Regions from separate parts of the Homo sapiens genome. Here regions 1, 2 and 3 are each linked to region 4. The links come from fine-mapping of genetic effects on gene expression. A gene starts in region 4. Each other region holds a variant in brackets. All regions are shown on one strand. Distances are between the middles of the regions. Region 1 overlaps MPZL1 (myelin protein zero like 1). Region 2 overlaps MPZL1 (myelin protein zero like 1). Region 3 overlaps MPZL1 (myelin protein zero like 1). Region 4 holds the start of MPZL1 (myelin protein zero like 1).

The links. PIP is the estimated chance that this variant, and not a neighbour inherited with it, causes the effect.
Region 1: its variant is the best candidate, but not a certain one, in a credible set for the expression of MPZL1 in whole blood (TOPMed, PIP 0.83).
Region 2: its variant is the best candidate, but not a certain one, in a credible set for the expression of MPZL1 in whole blood (TOPMed, PIP 0.69).
Region 3: its variant is the best candidate, but not a certain one, in a credible set for the expression of MPZL1 in monocytes after LPS (Fairfax 2014, PIP 0.57).

What each region holds. Positions count from the first base shown.
Region 1 is chr1:167,763,303-167,769,195 of GRCh38, forward strand. It overlaps MPZL1 (myelin protein zero like 1), which reads left to right. Exons shown (of 6, transcript NM_003953.6): 2 at 2,281-2,447. Among named protein-coding and RNA genes, the nearest start is that of MPZL1, 44 kb to the left of the region's middle. The variant A/C (reference allele first, on the strand shown) is at 2,519.
Region 2 is chr1:167,782,598-167,788,490 of GRCh38, forward strand. It overlaps MPZL1 (myelin protein zero like 1), which reads left to right. Exons shown (of 6, transcript NM_003953.6): 6 at 5,223-5,893. The coding sequence ends at 5,324. Among named protein-coding and RNA genes, the nearest start is that of MPZL1, 64 kb to the left of the region's middle. The variant A/C (reference allele first, on the strand shown) is at 2,764.
Region 3 is chr1:167,775,845-167,781,737 of GRCh38, forward strand. MPZL1 (myelin protein zero like 1) reads left to right here. Exons shown (of 6, transcript NM_003953.6): 5 at 220-322. Among named protein-coding and RNA genes, the nearest start is that of MPZL1, 57 kb to the left of the region's middle. The variant A/AGGAT (reference allele first, on the strand shown) is at 2,679.
Region 4 is chr1:167,718,972-167,724,864 of GRCh38, forward strand. MPZL1 (myelin protein zero like 1) reads left to right here and starts at 3,011. Exons shown (of 6, transcript NM_003953.6): 1 at 3,011-3,271. The coding sequence starts at 3,181. RefSeq lists enhancers at 613-1,112, 3,339-3,839 and silencers at 2,651-3,020, 3,411-3,480, 3,511-3,650.

The DNA of each region.
Region 1 (5,893 bases), 44 kb after region 4:
GTCAGGAGTTCGAGACCAGCCTGGGCAACATGGTGAAACCCCGTCTCTACTAAAAATACAAAAATTAGCTGGGCGTCGTGGTGGGTGTCTGTAATCCCAGCTACTCGGGAGGCTGAGGCAGGAGAATTGCTTGAACCCAGGAGGCGGAGGTTGCAACACTGCACTCCAGCCTGAGTGACAAGATTGAGACTCGGTCTCAAAAAAAAAAAAAAGAAAGAAAGAAAAGAAAATCCTTGAGAAACTTTATTTATAGACTTTTAGAGACTGTGGCTTTCCAGTACTCATCACCATGGAGAAAACTAGTCAAAATCACACAGAGTGAATAAGGGTTGCAAGCCAGTGCTGCTTCCTGGAATAAGCTGGTCCACTAGTCTAGTCTTGTGCTTTGTCCTTCATTTTGAACTCAAGTGCCCTGGGGCTGCTTTTCTGCGTACCCACAATAGCAAGGAACTCTTTTGTTTGCATCTCCTCTGAAAGAAATGCTTGTTTTGAGGTTTGGACCGCAAATAATAATCTATTGTTCCCTGTAATAATAATCCACCCTCTTTCGCAGAAAAAAAAATCTGCTTGATGCAGTATGGCTATCAGTTTATTTAAAAGAATAGCCAAAAGTGCCCATTATGTCCTGAGAATAAACATTTGCAAGATGGTTGGGAGGAATGGGGGAGTACTCTTGTTCTCCTTGGCTGAGAGTCAGTTAAGTCTTCAAGGAGAAAAAATTCTGAAAATGACCATCAGTCCTGGCTGACAATACTCTTCCTTATTCTGCCCGTCTGTTACATTCTAAGAATTATTGCAACACTGCAGATATTTATTCCAAACGATTTCTTTAAAAAATATGGAAGATGGGTATTTTTAAGTTACCAATTTTGGGCCAAATAAGTTTTTTTTTTCTGACTTTCATTTTGTCTGTGAAAGCATTTCTTTTATAGCAGTATGTTCAAATTAGCAATCTTTAAGAATTTGGCAAATACTTTTAACAGCAATCCTTAACAATTCCTGCAGTTGCCTACTATTGCAGATCTTGAAAAAAGAGCCATTTTTATATTCTAAGTGGTAGACACATTTCAATTACTATTTCCTGGGCTTAGGCTAACTGACAAAACTTGATGGGTGAAATGAAAATGTGATATACGGTGTAATCAGCTGTTTACTTACCTAGCACAGTGAAATCTTATGGTAGGTATGATTGCACTAACAAAACCAAAACATGCATTTTTCTTCCTTAAGTTCTTTATAAGAAAAGGATCAGTTAAATAATAAATGTGGCTTTAAAATGAAGTTATATCTTAGGATAGTTTTAATTGCATTACATATGGATGATGAGAAAAGTTCAGTGTGATAACAATTGCGTAACAGATAAGCATGAGAACTACTTAAAGAAATAAAAATATGCCCATCACCTCATTAAAAATAGACCATCAGGGAAGCCACCAAGAAGTCCTTCAGTAGGTGAATGAATAAACTGTGGTACATCCATACAATTTGTATATTATTCAGCAATAAAAAGAAATGAGATATTATGCCACAAAAAGACACGGAAGAAAGTTAAGTGCATATTACTAAGTGAAAGAAGGCAACCTTAAAAGGCTACATGCTGTATAATTTTAACTAGATAACATTCTAGAAAAGGCAAACCTATAGAGACAGTATAAGGTCAGTGTTTGCCAGGGGTGTGGGGGGAAGGACGGCAGGAATAAATTGGTGTAGCACAGGGGATGCTTAGGGAGTGAAACTATTCTGTATGATACTGTAATGGTGGAGACGTCACTATTCACCTTTGTCAAAATCCATAAGATCTACAACACTAACACAAATCCTAATGTAAACTATGGACTGTGGTTAACAATGATGTAACCATATTGGCTCATCAATTAAAACAAACGTATAACACTAATGCCAGATGTTAATAATAGGAGAAACAGGTTGGCCATGGGAGAGTGAGGGAATATGAGAATTCTACCTTCTATTCAATGTTTCTGTAAACCTGAAACTGCTCTTTAAAAAGTCTATTAGTTTAAAAAAAAAATTCAATATAACCAGACTAATAAAAATATCTTAACTAAAAAGCAATACAAACCTAAACTGTCAGCAATTATTCTGTTTATAGTGCTATTCTGATTGAACTTAGCTGTAGAATATTCTGCCAGAAATATGTAATGGCAGTGAATTACTGTATATATCTAGTAACTTTGCTGTATCTTTTCTTGTCTGGCAAAAATGCACAGTGGTATTCATGTTAAGTCCTACTTTCAACTACCCTTATTCCTTTCTCTTCAGTGACAGCTGGAGTATCAGCCTTGGAAGTATATACGCCAAAAGAAATCTTCGTGGCAAATGGTACACAAGGGAAGCTGACCTGCAAGTTCAAGTCTACTAGTACGACTGGCGGGTTGACCTCAGTCTCCTGGAGCTTCCAGCCAGAGGGGGCCGACACTACTGTGTCGGTAAGAATGCTTGACTTCTCTTGGCTAGTCCTGCCTCACAGGTTTCTTTACTGCTGTATAATTGGTGATCC[A/C]TTTTTCTGATGGTTCATTTCCAAAATGAGTGTATTTTTTATCTGTTATAGACTTCAAGGCCCTTCTTTTGCTTCAGGATAAAATAAGTTCAGCATCTCTTAAATGCGTCTGGTTTCCTTGTCTTTGATCAGTTCCTCTCCACCATCAAATCCCATTCTGAAATTGATCTTAATTGACCACACTGACTCTAATCAGGATTTATCCTGCATCTTTTCATCTTTTATTGCCCCATATTTATTGATATTTGTTTTATGTATTATCAAATTTTATATATATATGTATGCATCTTCTGATTTGATTATCTTTTTTTAATTTAGCGTATAGTCCATCTGATTTAGCAATATTGATTTGGGAGCTTACTATGTAGTGGGTTATGTAGGGCCTTCAAAAATGTCTAAAACAGAATCCTTGCTCTCACCTAGAGATGATTAGGAGGAAGGCTGATATATAGATGACTTTGGAGTAAGATAAAGGATGTAACAGAAATACAGCACCAGAGCATTGAAAAAAGGTTATTTAGTAACTAGTGGAGTGCTGGTTATTAAACATGAACTGACTATCTTGGTTCTGGTCTGTAAAATGGAGACGATAAAACCTCCCACACAAGGGTGTTAGGAGGATAAAGTAAGATTATTCAAGATAAGTGCTCAGGAGAGTGTCTAGCTCTTGAGTTACTAAAATACACCATTTGTTGTTACTGTTGCTCTCCCAGCATGTGGAATGCCCTTCATATATTGGCACATATTTTAGTACTGTTGCATGTTTCAGGTTGTCAGTGTTTAGCAAGGACAGTCTGTCATCTATCTTTAAGAATGCCCAATTCTTCTTCTGAATGGTGAGTTACATTGTTGATCACCACCTAGATGTTGGGCCCATCATATGCCTATGCCATTTAATCTTCACAGCTCTATGAGGAAGACAGGGTGGGGAGGATGGGAGACACTGACTCAAGAGTTATTCACCTGTGGCCATACCACACAGGTTAGAATTGTTTAAACTTCAATACGGTATGATTTCCCTTATGTATTATTTCTCTCTCAGGTAGAAAAATCTGCTAATAATATTTACGGCCTCATAGGTTTTAGGGATTACCTAAGGCAGTGCTTCTCAGTATTTTTTAAAATTTATTTTTAAAAGGAGCCTTTTCACATTTTTCTTAATCTCTGCCCCCTTCCATGAAATTTTAATATTGTAGATATCCTCTGCAACTGTTTTACATATAAAAGAGAAAGATTTTCTCAAAGCTTCCCACCCAAGAGCCAGTGTTTGCTCCCTTGGGGGAGAATCTCCCCTATGGAGAATGCATAGTCTAGAGGTCTTTATAAGAGAGGCCTTCCCTTACAGTAGCCATAAGGGTGAGCACAGGAATCCATACAGATACCATGGAAAGACATAAAGAGGCATTCTCTGCTTCACGTAAATATGGCATCAGCATAGAACATACACTAATGTTCCCATAGAGGCAAGATTAAACACATAAGTTTACTCAAGAGAGTCCAAAGAACTATTTAAACATTTAAAGATTTCCCACTGAAGTCTTCTGCAAGAGTGGGTGTGAGAGCCACCCAGAGGTAATAACTTTCTTTTAAAGAGCGGTTCCATTTATGCTGGAAACAGTCTTGTCGTGTAGGTCCATGAAGGTTTACATAACTCAAAACTTAATATTAAGAACATGCTGTAATTCTGATTAATATTTTTAGCTAATCAATTTATACTTACACACGAGTCTGATTGCAGTTAATCCCAGCATGTTCAGTTATTGACATAGGATCCTTTAATTCCAAAATGTCGGGACACATTTAATAAGATGAGTGGGTTGCTTTTTTGTTTTTATAGGTTTTACAGGAAAAGTATATTCAAACCCAGTATATTCAAAAGCCATACTGTGGATGGCTTTTTTGGCCCATGGCCTTGGGATCCACATGTCTGAAACTGAACTCATTTTTTCTCCCTTCTGTTTCCCTTTTCTGCTTTTTTTTTTTTTTTTTTTTTTTAGGTTAATTGTGTTCATCTGCAGATGAGTTTTGTAATCATTTTGTTTTGTTTTGTTTTGTTTTGTTTTGTTTTGTTTTGTGTTTTCTGTCCTTTCCTTCCCTGTCCCTTACCACTTCCCTTCTGCCCCCAAGAAATAAGAACCTTTGCTGGTTCTTCCTACTTTGTTTCTGGTGTCTAGCTTTTTGTCAGCCTTCCTGTGTCTCTGCTGTCTATTGAGCAATGTTAACTGTGTGCCTGGTCTTGTGCAGTAGCCCCTTGTTATTCTTCTGCTTCTGTTTTTCTCATCTTTCAATCCAACCCTCATATGCCAGCAGGTGCATAGTCTTAGAACAGCTCTTTCACCTTGCCACTGCAGGTTATCAGGAACCTAGATTCCCATTGTGGACAACATTTGTCTAGAATTAAAAGCTCATTACAATTTGGCCCAGCCTACCACTTTAGCCTCACTTCTGTTCTCTTATGGCATCACTTCCAGTTTAGTAAAAATGCTTTGTGCTTTGTTTTCCTACTTCTGAACACTTGTCATTTAAGCTGTACCCCATTTTTACCCTCTGTCTCCTCCATAATGCCTCTTTTTTTTTTTTTAACCTTTTAGCCCTTAAAACTCACTACCCTTATCTGGGCCATTCCTATAATACAGATCCCTTAATATGACAGTTTTCCTCTTCTTCCTGAATATGGGTGTTTTAAGAGGACTTGCCTGTCTTACATCTTTAGTATACCTCATAGCTTTAGCACCATGGCTTGTACTTTAAAAATATTGATTGATAATGATTCTAGTCTTTTCTGTGAATTTTTCACTGTTTTATTTCCATCTCTCACTGGTTTGACCAAGACGTTATTCCTCAGTTTGATTCAGCAAACTATGTAGTTCCTGCTGTGTCCAAAGTGCTAAGGAGTACAGAGATAAATACATCTTATCCTCTGCCTTCAAATGGCCCCCATTCAATGAGGGAGCCTGACTGAGGGAGCTGTCTCAGACCCAGTGCTGAGAAACAGCATCATGTAGCTCATCCCCGCTGGTTCAGAAATGCAAGGCAGGGAATATGTGGAGATGTTGTGGGAAGGGAAGGCAGAGAGCAGGTGATGGAAGGATTCATTTGCAAAGCTGAGAGTTTATGGTTCATTTTCTAGTGAAGAAGAGAGAGTGAAGAACTTTGAACAGATAAGACATGATCTCACCTGAGAGGCCTTAAACATTGGAAATAGCATAAGCTTTGAAATCAGAGCTGAGTTTGAATTCCATCTCTAAAACCTGTGACTTTGGGAAAGTCACCAAGGTTTCCTGAGCCTCACATTCCCTATTTATGAAATATCAGGTAGGCGAATCTCACCTTGCAGGGTGGTTGTGAGGGCTAGAGAGTTGTTGGGAGACAGTT
Region 2 (5,893 bases), 64 kb after region 4:
ATAATGGCCCCACAAAGAGGTCCACATTCTAATCTCTGGATTCTTTAGGATATGTTACCTTACGTATCAAAAAGGACTTGGCAGATGTGATTAAATTGCCTTGAGATAGGGAGATTGTCTTGGGTTATCTGGGTGGCTCCATTGTAACCATAAAGGTCCTTAGAAGAGGGAGGCAGAAGGGTAAGCATCGGGGAGAGACTGGAAGATGCTATACTGCTGACTTTAAAGATGAAGAACTCATAGCCAAGAAATACAGGCAGCTTCCAGAAGCTGGAAAAAGCAAGGAGACAGATTCTCTCCTAGAACCTGTGGAAGGCACGCAGTCCTATTGACACCTTGATCTTAGCACAGTGAAACACATTTCAGACTTCTGACCTGTAAAACTGTGAGATAATTAATATGTTTTTAACACCTTTAAAATTGTCTTTATTCTCCTCCCTCAAACTTGATTGCGAATCTGGTGGGGTAGGATTCCCAGTTGGAAATCATTTTCCTTCAGCATTTTGAGTCATTGCTGATTGTTCTGGCTTCCAGCATTGTGGCTTAGAAGCTGATGCCATTCTGATTCACTCTTAGGGCAGAGGAAGGTAGGGTCATCTACCTGAGCAAAGGGAGAGTAAAGACCAGAACCAAACTGGGGCTCTTCCAGCCAAGTGGAGTGGGAGGCTGGGTTGGGAAGGTGTTAGATAGGCACTACCTAGAGTTTAGAGTGTTAAGGCACTGTGGAAAAAAATAAGAAAATTTTTTTTCTTTGTGAAGCTTAGTTTTGAATGAGATTGGTATAAAGTAATTTTTGTATATGTATTTGAGGAGTAGTTGGTTTTCTAGATCCTTTTCTGGATATCGTTGATGCTCTGTATGCAAAAGGTAGGTTTTTGGGTTATGTTGTTAAACAGTGATTGAATGGAATATTTATGTATTTGTCAACTATAGTGCATAGCATAGACAGGGTAATGTTTCAAGAAGTAGTTATGTGCGTTTTTCCTTTAGTCCTCACAACAGTCCTCCAGGGTAAGTTCTTCTGTTGTCTCTATTTTACACATGAAGAAACTGAGGCTTAGTTAGGCAAGTCACTTGCTCAAGGTCAGTAGTTAGTGGCTGAGCCAGATCTGTCTGGTTCTAAGGCACATGTATATTTTATCCTGTCCAATTTTTTTCACCTCTGCTTTGATAATCAGTATTTGTCTCATTTATCTCAAAGAAAGTCATAATACATAGCTGTGTTTCATATTTATATTTTACTTAAAAAACAGTGGAATAAATACTAAAAAAAAAGGTGTTCTGTCAGTAGTCAATGAGCACATGGTAAAAATAGATGTTCTTTCTTAGTGATTCGTGCTAGGCTTTTGGGGATGACTCCTCTAACACCTGAAGGACTAGAATCAAATTAAATAGGGCTACAGGCTACAGAGACTGTGAAAGGTGTACTACAGGACACAACATAATGACTCCTGAGCAGTTAATTTGTAGTTAGAAGCAGGTCTCTTTGCTTTTCTAGAATCCTTTCTTCCTGGACCTTCTCCCCCAACCTTCACCAGTTATGGTTTTTTTATTGGAATAAATAATTAATTTTGGTACAAGTAAACTTCAGAGGTAATTTTATCTCTAGTTGTAACTAAAATAATAGGCCTATATTAAGCAATGTGTTTCTTGAAACATTTTCAATAGCTAAGGCCTATTCATGCAGAAAGTAGCTGAAAACATACTCAGACCAATTTTTCACTTTATTGTTGTAATTCTTTGTGTAAAAGCAAAGATAAATAAATAAATGAAATGGAGGGTGGGGAGGGTGAGTACCAAGAGATAGAGTAAAACAGCTAGGTTAATGTAGGTTTTGTTGTTGTTTTCCTTCTTTATTATACCCAAAAGTGAATGTCTTAACAATGGTAGGTTCATTTCAAAGTTGATCGTGGTTCTGTGGATCCTCTTGAAGTCCTGAGCAGCCTCATTTGCCCTCAAAATCGAGGTGCTGAGGCATGTTCCATAGAGACTCAGGGCTCCTTCCACCTCTAAATAGCACTCAGAATCAAACTTCATAGAGGTGTTCTAGATTGAGCTAGATCTGTCAGCAGACCCCAATCTCAACCTACATCTGCAGTTTCTCTGCATCCTTTCTTTCATCCATCCCTTCATCCAGCACCTGTGTTCTGCCAAGTTCTAGGAAGTTAACAAAGTCCCTGACTTAAGACCTTATTATATTCTAAGGGGGAAGAGGAATGAGGATAACATCAGGCAGTGGTAAACAGTTTGAAGAATACCAAGTCCATCAGCAGGAAGGGATTTCTTCAGTGTTTTCCCATTTACTTTCATGAGATAGTTGTATTCTTTTGACATGAAAGACAGTACTGTCTCACATGAAAGACCTCATTGATATTTTAACATTTACAGACTAAAAGATAATTCTGTGTTCTTTTTCCTCTTTACTTTCTCTGTTCTCATTCTTTTCTACTCACATAATATATCAATTATCTACTGCTACGTAACAAACCCCCCAAAATATAGTGGCTTAAAACACGCACTATTTATTTGGCTCCCCATTCTGTGGATTGGTCGAGCAGATTCTGGTCTGGATGAGCTCAGCTGATCTCTGCTGGCTCACTTGTGCATCTGCAGTTGGCTAGAAGGTTGACTGGTAGCTGGACAGTCTACAGTGGTCTCACTTACAGTCTAACCATTGGCAGGCTGTTGGCCAGGCAGACAGAGGACAGCTGGGCCATGCATCTCTCATCAGCCATCAGGCTGACTTTGGCTTCTTCACATGGT[A/C]GTGGTGGCTGTGTGGGTCCCAAGATCAGTGAGAGTGGAAGTGGCAAGGTCTGTTGAGGTCTGGGTGTGGAAACTGCACAGCATCACTGCTGCCTCATTCTGTTAGTCAGAGCTGATCACAAGATCAGCCCAGATTCAAGGGGTAGAGAAACAGATTTCTACTCTTGATTGGAAGGACCTACAGCATTATGTTGCAAAGAGTAAGATGCAGAGAAGGAAAGAGTTTGTAGCCATTTGTGCAGTCAGTCACACATTGTAAACCCCTTCTCCCATGAACATACCCTAAAACTCTTAGTGAGTTTTTAGGAATTATGATATGGGGTTTTATTATCTAAGAATTTATATAATTTAATGTTGGGAGTTCCGTCCTATTCTTGGAAATAGCTGTTACCAGGGAACAGTTAGTTTAATTCTGTTCCTAGTAGAAAACAGTCTTTTTTTTGTTTTTTTGAGACGGAGTCTCGCTTTGTCACCCGGGCTGAAGTGCAGTGGCGCTATCTTGGCTCACTGTAAGCTCCGCCTCCTGGGTTCACACCATTCTCCTGCCTCAGCCTCCTGAGTAGCTGGGACTCCAGGCGCCCACCACCATGCCCGGCGAATTTTTTTGTATTTTTAGTAGAGACGGGGTTTCACCGTGTTAGCAAGGATGGTCTCGATCTCCTGACCTCATGATCCGCCCGCCTCGGCCTCCCAAAGTGCTGGGATTACAGGCGTGAGCCACCACACCCGGCCGAAAACAGTCTTTTTAACTTCCTTTTGTTTTTTGGTGGGGTTAGCATTTAACTTGTAGCTTTCTGAGATGAATATAGAGGGTCTGTATGATTATTAACCATGTGATCTGTTAATATTTCCTATGACAGCCATTATAGACTAAAGATAAACACACAGAGTTTGACTATTTAATTTACTTGACCAGTTACCTCAGTGCATTTTAAAGTATGTTTGTGTAACAAGACGTTCATAATAATAACTAACATGTATTAAGTACTGTCTGTGAGACACTGCCTAAGTTATAGGTATCATCTTATTTAATTTTCATAACAACAAAAAACAAAAATGTAGATATTATTAGTAGTACCATTTTAGAGATGAAGAAACTTGTGCTTAGAAATTTACAAATGTGCCCAGGGCCACGTGACCAGTGCTCTTCTCTAAGGTTCAACAAAGACGATATCATAATTCAGACTGCAGATCTGCCAACATTCAAATGGCTCTAGTCCTCGAGTGTTATTTTCTAACTCCGCTTTTAGATGCACCATTGTATAGCCCTTACAACTGGGCCTGTCCCTTCTGTAGATGTGGGAGTAGCTGAACTCCACAGAACCCCAGGTTACACACTAAGGACACAGGTTGTTAGGGCTCCTGGATGAGGGTAAGTGTGTTTATTTTAAACCACGTGCTTTTGGCTATTGAGCTTATGATTTCAAAGGTGAAAGCTTAAGCACGTTATTAGACTTCTCAAGGAGAGTTCCCCTAGATTGGGAGAAAAGTTGACATTGGGTAATATTAAATCTTTCTTTTAAAACCAGGGCTATTTTGTTGTTGTTTACAATTTTAAGAGTCTAGACTGAAAGAGTCATGAAATGCAGCCACCTATCTGACCTCTTCCCCCAACAGTTAGGGAATTCGCTCTGCCCCCAGGCCACCCAACCTTCCCTTGCTCTCCTGAATGGGACCCTGACAATTCCCTGGAATTGTAACCTCTTCCTTACTGCTGAGGCTGAGAAGAGGATCTTTTCTACTTTACTCCATTTAGGGTTTTTCTTTATATCTGTGTAGATTGTGGCTTTTTGTTTTTTCTTTTTAATTTTATTTTAAAACAGGAAGAACAGTTATCTGATATTAAAAATCAAGGAAGCAATATTTGTATTGGTCACAATACGCTCAGACTAAAAGAATTATGCTGTAAGTAGTTGTATTGAAGAATATTTGAAGTGCTTTTAAACTATTTGTTTAAAACTATACCTATTTGTATAACGTGACCAGATCAAATTGATTGTATCTTTGGGTGGCACCAAATATGTTGGTTTCTTGCATGGATTGATTATTCTGAAGCTCATGATTTCTGTGGGTCTCAGGTGCGTGGAAGTTCCCATCTTAGTCCTTAAGACTCTTACCCCAATTGTAAGAGCTGAGGAATTCTGTGATAGCTATTAAGATAAGAGATATTCCTAAGAAGGAATATATTATTACAGAAATTTTCAAACATCAAAAAGGTTTGAAAGAATAATGTAACAAAGCCCCATGTACTTGCTTTAACTATTGTCAACGTATGTCCAATCTTGTTTCAAAGTCAGTCCTGGATGTATCATCCATAAGAAGTCTTCCTGAAGACATTCAAGAGGGAAGTCTTTGCTTTGGAACCCTGATGTGATCACGTTAATCATTGCTTCTATGCCTGTAGCTGAAGGAACCGCCAGCGTTTTCAGTCCTCTAATCCTTCTGCTTCCCTTTTCCAGGGCCCAGTCATATATGCACAGTTAGACCACTCCGGCGGACATCACAGTGACAAGATTAACAAGTCAGAGTCTGTGGTGTATGCGGATATCCGAAAGAATTAAGAGAATACCTAGAACATATCCTCAGCAAGAAACAAAACCAAACTGGACTCTCGTGCAGAAAATGTAGCCCATTACCACATGTAGCCTTGGAGACCCAGGCAAGGACAAGTACACGTGTACTCACAGAGGGAGAGAAAGATGTGTACAAAGGATATGTATAAATATTCTATTTAGTCATCCTGATATGAGGAGCCAGTGTTGCATGATGAAAAGATGGTATGATTCTACATATGTACCCATTGTCTTGCTGTTTTTGTACTTTCTTTTCAGGTCATTTACAATTGGGAGATTTCAGAAACATTCCTTTCACCATCATTTAGAAATGGTTTGCCTTAATGGAGACAATAGCAGATCCTGTAGTATTTCCAGTAGACATGGCCTTTTAATCTAAGGGCTTAAGACTGATTAGTCTTAGCATTTACTGTAGTTGGAGGATGGAGATGCTATGATGGAAGCATACCCAGGGTGGCCTTTAGCACAGTATCAGTACCATTTATTTGTCTGCCGCTTTTAAAAAATACCCATTGGCTATGCCACTTGAAAACAATTTGAGAAGTTTTTTTGAAGTT
Region 3 (5,893 bases), 57 kb after region 4:
CCCCAGTGATGAGTTCATTGACTTAGAAGAATGAGTGAGTGTCAGGTATAGAAAATAGTTTAAAAACATGTGATCATTTTGACACCCATTGTTATGTTGTCTTTTGTTTTTATATATCTGTTGCTTCATCTTGCCGTCAGTTGCATTTCTATATTTTTGTTTCTATTTATTTATTATTATTATTTTTTACATTTGTTCTTCAAATTGCCAATTCATCAGCTGCAGTACATCAGAGAGTTTGTCACCAGTTAAGCAGGCTCCTCGGAAGTCCCCCTCCGACACTGAGGGTCTTGTAAAGAGTCTGCCTTCTGGATCTCACCAGGTAATGGCTGATTGCGATTCTGCCCACTGCACTGTTCCCTACAGCTTGGTGCTCTGTCACTTCCTTGGGTGTGGAAAAGAATACTGAGCTATGAGAGACAGAGACAGAGACAGACAGACAGAGACAAAGAGAGAGTGGGAGTGAGGAATTAAAGGGCTGGCCTAGGAAGACCACAGGAAAATATGTGGTGAAGAATCTGCTTGAGTAAAGATTTCCATGAAACCACCAATAACATAAATTGTTTACTAACCATGTAGCTTCCTTGCCTCAAGCAGAATTAGGAAATGGCTTTGTCAGTAAAAGATTCTTTAATTGCCCAAGGAAATGAATCTAATGAAGGAGATTCTTTCTGTATTGAGGTACTCTAAGATAAGAAATTAGCAAGGAAAAGTTGGTATTCTTAGTATTGATAATAAAACCAAAATTATTTTCTGTGGATTCTTTAGAAAAAATGGAAAGTAAGCATTTATCTGAATAATTAATAGGCTTGATGAACAAGGAATGGTTTTGGTTTCTACTTGTAGAAAGTACAGAAGAGAAACAGGTTTTATTTGGAAGTTAGCATATAATCTAGCTTTGTGTGTTTTGGCTGTAGTATTTTAATTATAACTGTGGCTTGGCAAAAATTCCATAGCTTAGTTCAGTTTGATTTTTCTGGGGTAGAAAGCATGCTAAAGAATTTGGCCAGTTATAGCTTTGTCCTAAAAAGGTGTTAGCTGGTGGGAATGGATTTAAGAGGAAATAAAGAGAGTAACAGTGTTTTGTGGGAAAAGTACCCATAGTCTTATTCCATAGTTGTTATATGTGGTGAGGAAACTAAGGCATTGTGATGTTAAATTACTAAAAGCACACACCCAGTTAGTGACAGAACTGGGGCTAGAACCCAGGTGTCTAGATAGCATGTTCTCTACCACAGCATCAGGCTCATTACTTGTTCCTGTTCTATCTGTCTGTCTCTCTCTCACATTACATAATATATGTCAGATACCTCAGTCTACTAATTTGGGTTGTGAACAGGAATATGGTTGTAAATGAAGACATGAAAGTTACATACACATAGGCATAGCATCTAAAAAAGCATTGGAACATTTTTATTCCGCCCTTGAAGCACTATGGAAGTTGCTTTTTTGCTGAAAACAAACCAGAAAAAAGAAAAAGAAACTGTGGTTTTCAAGACAGTGGAACACAAATTATGCAGCACTGTCATCCCCAAAAGAAAGGAAACAGACAATGTGAGCCGTGTTATTGCCCCAGTGTACTGCCTTGAAGCAGTTTCCACACTGCAGTGTAGGTGGGGAAAATGGAAACTGGGCCCAGCTGTCTCACTCAATTGAGAAGGCGGAAATCAGAATTTGGGGAGGTCAAGGAGGCTAAGATTTATGAGGCTGAGTACCAAAGAAGGAACCATAGAGAGAGCGTGCTAGGATGAGCACGAGCACTTCAGAGATTTGGAGCGGGGTCCCCTTGAGTCTTTGTCTGATTACAGAGTTGTATACACATAGGAGAACACTCTCTGAAACCAGGGGAAGAACTACCTGAAATGCAGTAGGTTGCACAATGCCTGGTGCTCACACAGGTGAGGGACTAGTTTGTGTTCCTAAGAGCCAGAGTAGAGAGACTTATAATACACAGGGTATTGGTTGGGGTTCTCAAAATGGTCATACCTAAATGGGTTAAATTAGTACCAGAATAAAGGATGCTATGGACCCACCATAACAAAGCTTAAAAGGAAGCCTTTAAAGAATCAAACTAATCCAAAAGTAATTTAGTTGCATTTTACAACAAAATCCAACACGCTTTATGCTACAACAAAATTCATCACCCAACAATGTACAATTTACAATGTCTGGCACCAATCAAAAACTACCAGGCATGGCCTGGTGCGGTGGCTCACGCCTGTAATCCCAGCACTTAGGGAGGCCAAGGCGGGTGGATCACGAGGTCAGGAGTTCGAGACCAACTTGACCAACATGGTGAAACCCTATCTCTACTAAAAATACAAAAATTAGCCAGGTGTGGTGGTGCACACCTGTAATCCCAGCTACTCAGGAGGCTGAGGCAGGAGAATCACTTGAACCTGGGAGGCAGAGGTTGCAGTAAGCCGAGATCACACCACTGGCACTCCAGCCTGGGTGACAGAGTGAGACTCCATCTCAAAAAAAAAAAAACAACTATCAGGCATAAAAAGAAACCAAAAAATAAAACACATAAGCCAGATATAGTGGTGTGTACCTGTAGTCCCAGCTACTTGAAAGCCTAAGTGGGAGGATTGCTTGAGCCCAAGAGTGTAAGACCAGCCTGGGCAATATAGTGAGACCCTATCTCAAATAAATAGATGGGTGGAAAGAAGGAAGGA[A/AGGAT]GGATGGATGGATGGATGGATGGATGGATGGATGGATGGATGGATAGATTTAAAAAAATAATAATTTAATAATTAATTACAATAAAAAATCAGGAGAAATCAATCAGAAACAAATTCAGAATGGATGGAAATGATGGGATTCATAAACAAAGACCTTAAAATGAGTATTATCAATCTTATTAGTAAACTTAAAGATGTAAAGGAAAGCTTGAACCCAATGAGGAAAGAAATAGATATCTAAAACAGACCAAAATGGAACTTCTGGAAATAAAAAAAAATTGGATGGTGTTAACAACAGATTAGATACTGCAAAAAAAAAAGGTCAATCAACTTGAAGACATAGCAATAGAAACTATCCAAAATGAAGCTCAAAGAGAAAGACAGATGGCGGGGTGAAAGTGAACAGAGCCTAACACGGTGAAAACCCATCTCTACTAAAAATACAAAAAATTAGTTGGGCATGGTGGCACGTGCCTGTAGTCCCAGTTACTCAGGAGGCTGAGGCAAGAAAATCACTTGAACCTGGGAGGCAGAGGTTGCAGTGAGCTGAGATCATGCCACTGTACTCCAGCCTGGGCAACAGAGCGAGACTCTGTCTCAAAAAAGAAAAAAAGAAAAAAAAGAAAGTGAACAGAGCTTCAGTGAGCCACCGGACAATATCAAGCAATCTAATTAGAATCCGAGAAGAAAAAGGGAGAGAAAAAAATATGTAAAGAAATAGTGAAATTTTTAGTAAATTTAATGAAAAACATAAACACACAGAAAGCAATAGCGAAAATTGCTGGGCGCAGTGACTCAACGCCTGTAATCCTAGCACTTTGGGAGGCTGAGGTGGGTGGATCACCTGAGGTCAGGAGTTCGAAACCAGCCTGGCCAACGTGGCAAAACCCCATCTCTCCTAAAAATACAAAGATTAGTTGGGCATGGTGGCAGGCGCCTGTAATCCCAGCTACTTGGGAGGCCAAGACAGGAGAATTGCTTAAACCACAGAAGCGGACATTGCAGTGAGCCAAGATCGCGCCACTGCACTCCAGCCTGGGCAACAGAGTGAGACTCCATCTCAAAAAAAAAAAAATTGACTCTTTACAGCAAAAATAATGACAGCATTTTATGAGGCTATAACATGTGGAAGTAAAATGTATGACAACAGTAGTACAAAGGATGGGGTGGAAGGATGGAAGAATACTGTTGTAAGGTCCTTATATTATCCATGAAATTATAATTTGAAGGTAGACTGTGGTAAGTTAAAGATATATGCTGCAAATTCTAGAGCAAACACTGAAAAAAATAAAAGAGATAGATACAGCTAACAAGCTCTATCTCCGAATGGCAATACTGATAAGAACAAAATTCTGACATATGCTACAACATGGAAAATGGTAAATGCGGATGGTAATAATATCAACGTTGGCATCAGAACAAGAAATAGAACCAGAGATAGAGGGACTTTTTATGATGATAAAGCGATCTACTTACAAAGAAGACATAATCCTAAATGTTTATACTTGTAATAGTAGAGCTTGAAAATAAGTAAAACTGAGAGAATTGGAAGGAAAAATTGACGTATTTACAATCATAGTTGGAGGTTTCAACAAGAAACTTTAATGTAATCATTTCAAAATACTCAGTTAATCCAAAAGTGAGCAGGAAAGGAGGGGAAAATGAGCAAAGGGTAGATGGGGCAAATAGAACACAAATAATGAAGTGGTAGATTTAAACTCAACCAGACTGATGATTGTATTACTATAAATGGGCTGAGTGTGCCAATAAAAGGTGGAGATGGACAAATTGGATAGAAAAGCAAGAACCAATCATATGCTGTCTGCAATAAACCACTTTAAATAAAAAGATCCAGGTAGGTTAAAAATATTAATACAAGGATGAAATTGAAAGCAGAGTCTTGAAGAGATATTTGTACATCCATGTTCATAGCAGTATTATTCACAAGAGCCAAAATACAGAAGCAACCCAAGAGTCCATCAGTATACAAGTGGATAAATAGAATGTGGTATATATATACACAATGGAATATTATTCTGTCTTTAAAAGGAAAGAAATTCTGACACATGCTACAACATGGATGAATCTTGAAGATATGCCAAGTGAAATAAGCCAGCCACAGAAAGACATACTATGTGATTCTACTAATATCCCATACCCTACAGTGGTCCAGTTCATAGAGACAGAAAGTAGAGTGGTAGTTGTTGGGGAAGGAAGAATAGGGAGTTGTTTAATTGGTACAGTTTCAGTTTTTGCAGGATGAAAATATCGTAGAGATTGGTTGCACAAGGATGTAAATGCACTTAACACTACTAAGCTGTACACTTTAAAATGGTAAAGATGCTAATTTTTATGTTATATATATTTTACCACATTTTTTAAACAGTAAAAGGATGGAAATGATATGCTACATTAACACTAATCAAGAGAAATCTGGGTGGTAATAATATCAGAATAGGCTTCAGAACAAGAAATAGAACCAGGGATAAAGACAGACTTTTTATGATGACAAAGTGATCTACTCATGAAGAAGACATAATCCTAAATATTTATACTTCTAATAATAGAGCTTGAAAGTAAGTGAAGTAAAACTAAGAGAATTGAAAGGAGAAATTGACATATTCACAATCATAGTTGGAGGTTTCAACACTCCTTTCTCAGCAGTTGGTAGAACAGGTTTACAGAAAATCAAAAAAGATGCGGAAGACTTAACAGTGAAACCAGTTTGAGCTAATAGACATTTATAAAACACTCCTTCCATCAAGCGCAGAATTCTTACTCTTTTTAAGTACACATGAAAATTAACCAAATATAGACCATATTCTGGTTCATAAAACAATTCTCATTAAATTTAAAAGGGTTGGAATCATATAGAGTACGTTCTCTGGCCACAATGGAATTAAACAGAAATCAACAGAAAGATACCTGGAAAGTCTCAAATATTTCAAAATTGAACAACCCATGAGTAAAACAAGAAGTCACAAGAAAAATTAGAAAATATTTTGAACTGAGTGAAAATAACATATCAAAATTTGTGAGATATAGCTAAAGAAGTGCTTTGAAGATTTGTAGCATTAACTGTTTATATTAGAAAAAAATAAAGCTCTAAAATTGATGATCTAGGCTTCTGTCTGAAGAAACTAGAAAAAGAAGAGCAAATTAAACCCAACATAAACAGATAGAATTAATAAAGAGAAGAGCTGTGGAAAAATCAG
Region 4 (5,893 bases):
GGAGACACTAGAACTCTAATTTTCCAATTTTCAAAAATTTCTAGCAGCAATGCTTCTGGATTAAGACATTCTTTGTGAAACTGATTTGGCTTCAGGCGAATCTTTCTCAAGGTGGCCTGGGATTCCTCTTTGAATCTATCTGATTTGTTATCTGCGAGGAGTCAAATTCTCAGGGTTCCTGGGACACCACCCACATTCCAATTTTCCTCTGGCAACAGATCTTGAAGACAAAGACAGACAGGCTAGAAATTGGGACTCTTTTTCTCTTGATTATACTTCTCATCCAATTTATACCCAGTCCTGTAATTCTTTTCGTGAAATGTCTCTCAAATCCTGTCTTCTCATCCCCACTATCAATACCTTATTTCCTGCTCTCTTCATTCTTGCCCTGCTGCAGTGGTTACCTTTTTAAAACACAGATCCGAACTTCTTACACCCCTTTCACCACTCTCCACTGCCTCCAGAAAAAACACAACTCAAGGCTCTTCAAAATATGACCGCAGCCTCCTTTCCTGGCATTCTCTCTTCCCCTCTTTCCCTCACTCCCCTCAAGTTGCAAACCACAAAGGATTCACCTAATGTTTCTCACACTTGGTAGGTGATTTCTTTTCTCTGAATGTGCTTTTCCTGTTTTCTCCGTTCTCTGAGTTTGCTTTTCCTGTTTTCTCTCTGGTGAATTATTCATCTTTTAAAGTTCACCTTAAATGTTTTATCCTTGGTGAATCTTTCTAGATGCTTCTTGGGCCAGTGGATTTTAGGAGAGCGAGGTATATGTGGCTGAGGTACATCACAATCAGCAGAGAAGCTTTAAACACTGCTGAGAGTCACTGTCCCTGCTGGCCTTGGGTTTCTTCTTTATTCACTCTTCCTTTTTTTGAGACGGAGTCTCGCCCTGTCGCCCAGGCTGGAGTGCAATGGCGCGTGATCTCGTCTCACTGCAACCTCTGCCTCCCAGGTTCTGTAGCAGGATGAGCCGCAGACAAAACTCCTCAGACACGGAGTTAAAGAAGGAAGGGGTTTATTCGGCCGGAAGTATCGGCAAGCCTCCTGTCTCAAGAGCCTAGCTCCCCGAGTGAGCAATTCCTGTCCCTTTTAAGGGCTCACAACTCTAAGGGGGTCCGCGTGAGAGGGTCATGATCAATTGAGCAAGCAGAGGGTACTGTGAATGGGGGCTGCATGCACCGGTAATCAGAACGAAACAGAACAGGACAGGGATTTTTACAATGCCTTTCCATATAATGTCTGGAATCCATAGATAACATAACCGGTTAGGTCAGGGGTCGATCTTTAACTACCGGGCTTAGGTCAGGCAGGCCCAGGCCTGGTTTCGGGTCTGGTTCTTAGGCGCCGGGTTACCTGCCTTTAATTTCGCTTCTCTTTCCTTTTCTGAGTATAAAACTATATGAGAGGTTCTGTCTCTCTTCTCTCAGTTCAAGCGATTCTCCTGCCTCAGCCACCCGAGTAGCTGGGTACAGTCACGCGCCACCCATGCCCGGCTAATTTTTTTGTATCTTTTAGTAGAGATGGGGTTTCACTACGCTGGCCAGGCTGGTCTCAAACTCCTGACCTCGTGATCTGCCCGCCTCGGCCTCCCGAAGTGCTGGGATTACAAGTGTGAGCCACCGCACCCGGCCCTCATTTTTACAAATGTAATTGAGTACTTGTTTGTGTACACTAGTAGACGATGTGCTTCTTGAGAGTAAAGCCCAGGTGTTCTACATCCATGGTTCAATTAATGCATTGGTATCTTTTCCAACCTATGGCATTTGAGATACAACTTCAAAAGGATCTGCTGACAGAAATAGGGCAAAGTGGTTCTGGTATTTTTTTTTTTTAAGTTTTTTTCTCACTAATGTTCTTATGATTTCGCTGTACTGCAATGTTAGCTGAAACAGCACAGATATCAGGAATGGCATTGTTAAGACTGACCTTAGACAAAAACCCTGAAGTGAGAGGTTACATTTTGGGTTCTCACCATACTCTTCCCCCGCTCTTGTCCTAATTGTCTAAAGCTTGCTTCCCTTCCTCATCGTATCAGCCTCCCACCTGAATCTTCCCTTTTCCTCCTTCACACTCATCTTTCTTGTGCCCCTGTCCCCCATTTTTCCCTTTTGTAAGCCATTTTCATAAGGATCCTTCCAAATATTTCCCCTATTGATTGGACAACCCGTAGGTGGCAGACTGTTCTGGGCCAAGGCAACCAAGTTGAGCAGGGCCAGCAATCAGTGTCGGGAACTTCTGCAGGGCACTTCAGAATCAGTGTTGGGAACTTCTGCTTTCTATTTTTCACGGACACAGACAGGAACACAGATATGCGAAAGCAAAACAATCAAAAAGCATTTTCATTTGTTTTTCAGGTAGTAGGAAAGAGTTCCAGATTCCCATCCTTCTGAAGCCAGGAGGGAGGTTCCTAAGAGGAGGTTAGGGCAAGATGGAGACTTCTTTTTAAACTAGTAGATTTCGCAAATTGCAACACATACATTATCTAGTCCACGCAAAGGACAGGCCTTGGGGACACGGCACGGGGAACGTGTTCCACCTGGACGACTGAATCAGAAGTCTCTCCCCCATCAATTGAACGCCTCATTATTTTTCTTTCTGTCTTTTCTTTCTTTTTAAGGTAAATGAATTGCTTCTTTTTCGTTAGGTGAGGCCGGCAGAGAACAAGAAGAGCTGAAACGGAGGCGAGGTTAGTACCCAGCAAAGACCTGTGGCGAGGAGAGACAATGAAGAGGACCACGGGACTGGACCCTGAGAAAGGCAGAGGAGACGCTGGCTGGTGGGGCCCGCAGGCGGACAGCCACGCAGGCAGGCGGAAGGCTCGGCTCGGCCTGGGACCGCTGCAGACCCGGCCTCCGCGCGGGGCCGAGGCGCCTGGGTGGGACCGAGGAGGCGGGGCCTTCCCGGCGGACGGATGATGGACAGCCTGACTCTCCAATCGCGTCCTTAAAAGGGTGCGGGCAGGCCAATGAGCGGACAGCGAGGGCCGGAGTGGGGCTGAGGCTTCGGTGCAGAGCTGGAGAGCCGCGGCTGGGACCGGAGTGGGGAGCGCGGCGTGGAGGTGCCACCCGGCGCGGGTGGCGGAGAGATCAGAAGCCTCTTCCCCAAGCCGAGCCAACCTCAGCGGGGACCCGGGCTCAGGGACGCGGCGGCGGCGGCGGCGACTGCAGTGGCTGGACGATGGCAGCGTCCGCCGGAGCCGGGGCGGTGATTGCAGCCCCAGACAGCCGGCGCTGGCTGTGGTCGGTGCTGGCGGCGGCGCTTGGGCTCTGTAAGTGATGCCAGGACCAGGGCTGGGGCCGGGGAGTGGGGCCCCCGGGCCCGACACACGCCCATCGCGGCGGTCGCAGGCCAGGCGCGCGCACTGAGAGCCGAGGTGGGGAGGGGGCGCGGCCTGCGCTCTCTGGGGCCGAGGGGACCCAGCCCATGGGGAACGCGGGCCTCCGCGACTGGCCGGGAAGGCGCAGAGCCTCTTTCTTCTCTTTCCTGGATCCTGGAGTGCGGAGGAGGAGGGGAGAGTGCTTTACCTTGCTCCTTCCCGGGGGGCGGTCCAGGGGAGCGGACCCGGCGGGCGGCTGCGGTGAGCCCTCGCGGCGCACCCTGCCCTCTCCTCGTGGTGACTCTGGATCGTCTAGGCCCTCCCGGATTCTGACTCAGGAACTAGGGTTCTGGCGTTCTTCACCTTTGGGAGGTGGCGGAAAGTTGCAGGTTTTTCATTTGTAGGGCCTTTGTTGATTTGTTTCCTGTTAAGCCAGGGTTTTGTTGTAAGTTCCCTTTCCCATGCTCTCATTCAGTTTTAAGTCTCCGTAATAAAAGAGTCTCATTTCCGTGGTCTGCAAAACGCCAATAAAAAAATATTGTTACTTCTAGGTTAGAATGCAAAGAGCTTGGAATACCAGTGAGATGGCCTGGCTTAAAAGAATTTGGTCAAATCCATCATAATTCCAGACGTAGCCACCATAATTTGACAAGACATAGAGCATTAAAAAGCATAATTTTCCTAAAGGAAAAAAAAAGCTCCTTTTTCTTACCAAATATTGTGACTCAAGCTTAAGGTAAACCTCGGGCTCAATTTATGGGAATTGGATGACTTGTTTTATGGACATCTGAAGTGGTATCTGCCACAGGACTTTTCTGTGTTGTTGTTCAAAGCAAAGTACTTGTTGCTGTCTCCGAATTTAGTTAAATAATAGTTATAAAGAGGGCCAGCTGCTAAGAAACCACGTAGATTTTTTTCATTCCCTTTGTTTTCAAAATGTCAGTTATGATTTAGCATCACAGTATCTGAATACCAGAGTTTACTCAGTAATTTCTTTCTTCATGGAAAAGTTCTTAATATAATCCTTGGATCAGGGAAACTAGGTGAAGTTCTGTTGGATCACCAACTGTTCCACTTAAACAGTGATTCCAGGGGCTGTAAAGCATAAATGTAAAAGTCTCCCTACCCTCCAGGGGTTGACAGATGATGACACACTTTGTGTAAGACACAATCCATTCTGTATTTTGTCTTAGAAAAAAAGGTTAAAAGTGTGTTTGTTGGTGGTGGTATTTGTGTTTAATCAAACAAGTAGAAAATAGCCTAAAATTAAGGTTTATCAGAAATATGCTTCAGACAGAATTGTTATGCATGAGAGGTCAGACATTGCTATGGAGGACAAAGCAGTTAGGGTGATCTTAATTAAAATCAGGGTATTAAACGTAGAAGGAGTGCAAAACTACATAGTAGTGAAAAGATCACTAGAGTAATAGCCCCATACAACTTGGACGTAACTCTTCAGTAATGAAGATGAATGTTGATATGTAAAAATCAGCAGCTGATGTTATTGGTTCAACTTAGAAAATTATTGAATCTAAAATTCTTGCCAAATCACCTCTTTTCTGGTCATGGATACTGCACATAAGAGTTTATCTTTTACAGGATAGCTTCTAAAGTTTTATCAAGACAGTTACTCAGCAAACATTCACTGAGCACCTTTTAAGTGCTTAACACTTAAAAGGTGGGAGGTTAGGTCTCACTGTGTTGCCCAGGCTGCTCTGGAACTGAAACTCCTGGGCTCCAGTGATTCCTCTGCCTTTTCCTCGCAAGCAGCTGGGGCTACAGGTGTGTGCCACTGTGTAGGGTCAGAAGCACATTGGTAAAGATGTACTGTGGGAGCTTGAAGGAGGGTCATTATCTCAGACTGTAGTTCAGGCTACTGGAGGAAGGGAGTTTAAACTGGGTAGGCATGGGGGAGGGGCAGAAGTACATACAGAGTTATGAATGAACCTGTTGGTAGTTCAGTATAGTGGGAGGTTGGAGTGTATATAAGGGGAATGGTGGGAGTTGAGGCAGGAGAGCCTGCCAAGGGCACCAGCTTACAAAGGGCCTTGTCTGCCACACTTAATCCAATGAGGATTTCTCTGTCTATTGAGATGTGAAGGATGGGTTAGAGTGGGGTGAGGCTGAAGCCAGAGAAGGCAGAGGACTATTGTAATAATCCCGGGGAGGATGATGAAGATCTGAATTCAAGCATTGGGCTATGAAGAGAGGACACATGTTGATGCGCCACTTAGAAAGTACGTTTGATAGAGCTTGGAAACATTGATGCAGGCTTGAAAGAGGAGGTGGATAAAATGATCATAGGTTTTGGGCTTGGGAAGCTGGGCATATTTTTGGCCTTTTCACAGATGGGGAAATAGGAGTCTTGGGGGAAGAAGATGATGGAGATACTTTTGAATATGTTGAGTTTGAGATGCGGGTAAGACATCCAAATGGAGATGGGCAGAAAACAATTGGATAGACAGTTCTGGAGGTGAGGAGAAAGTTCTGGTTGGAAATGGAGATTTAGAGAGTTATGTGGCTAATAGTTAAAGCTTGGATTGTTTGGATGAGGGCATCCAGGGAAAATGCACT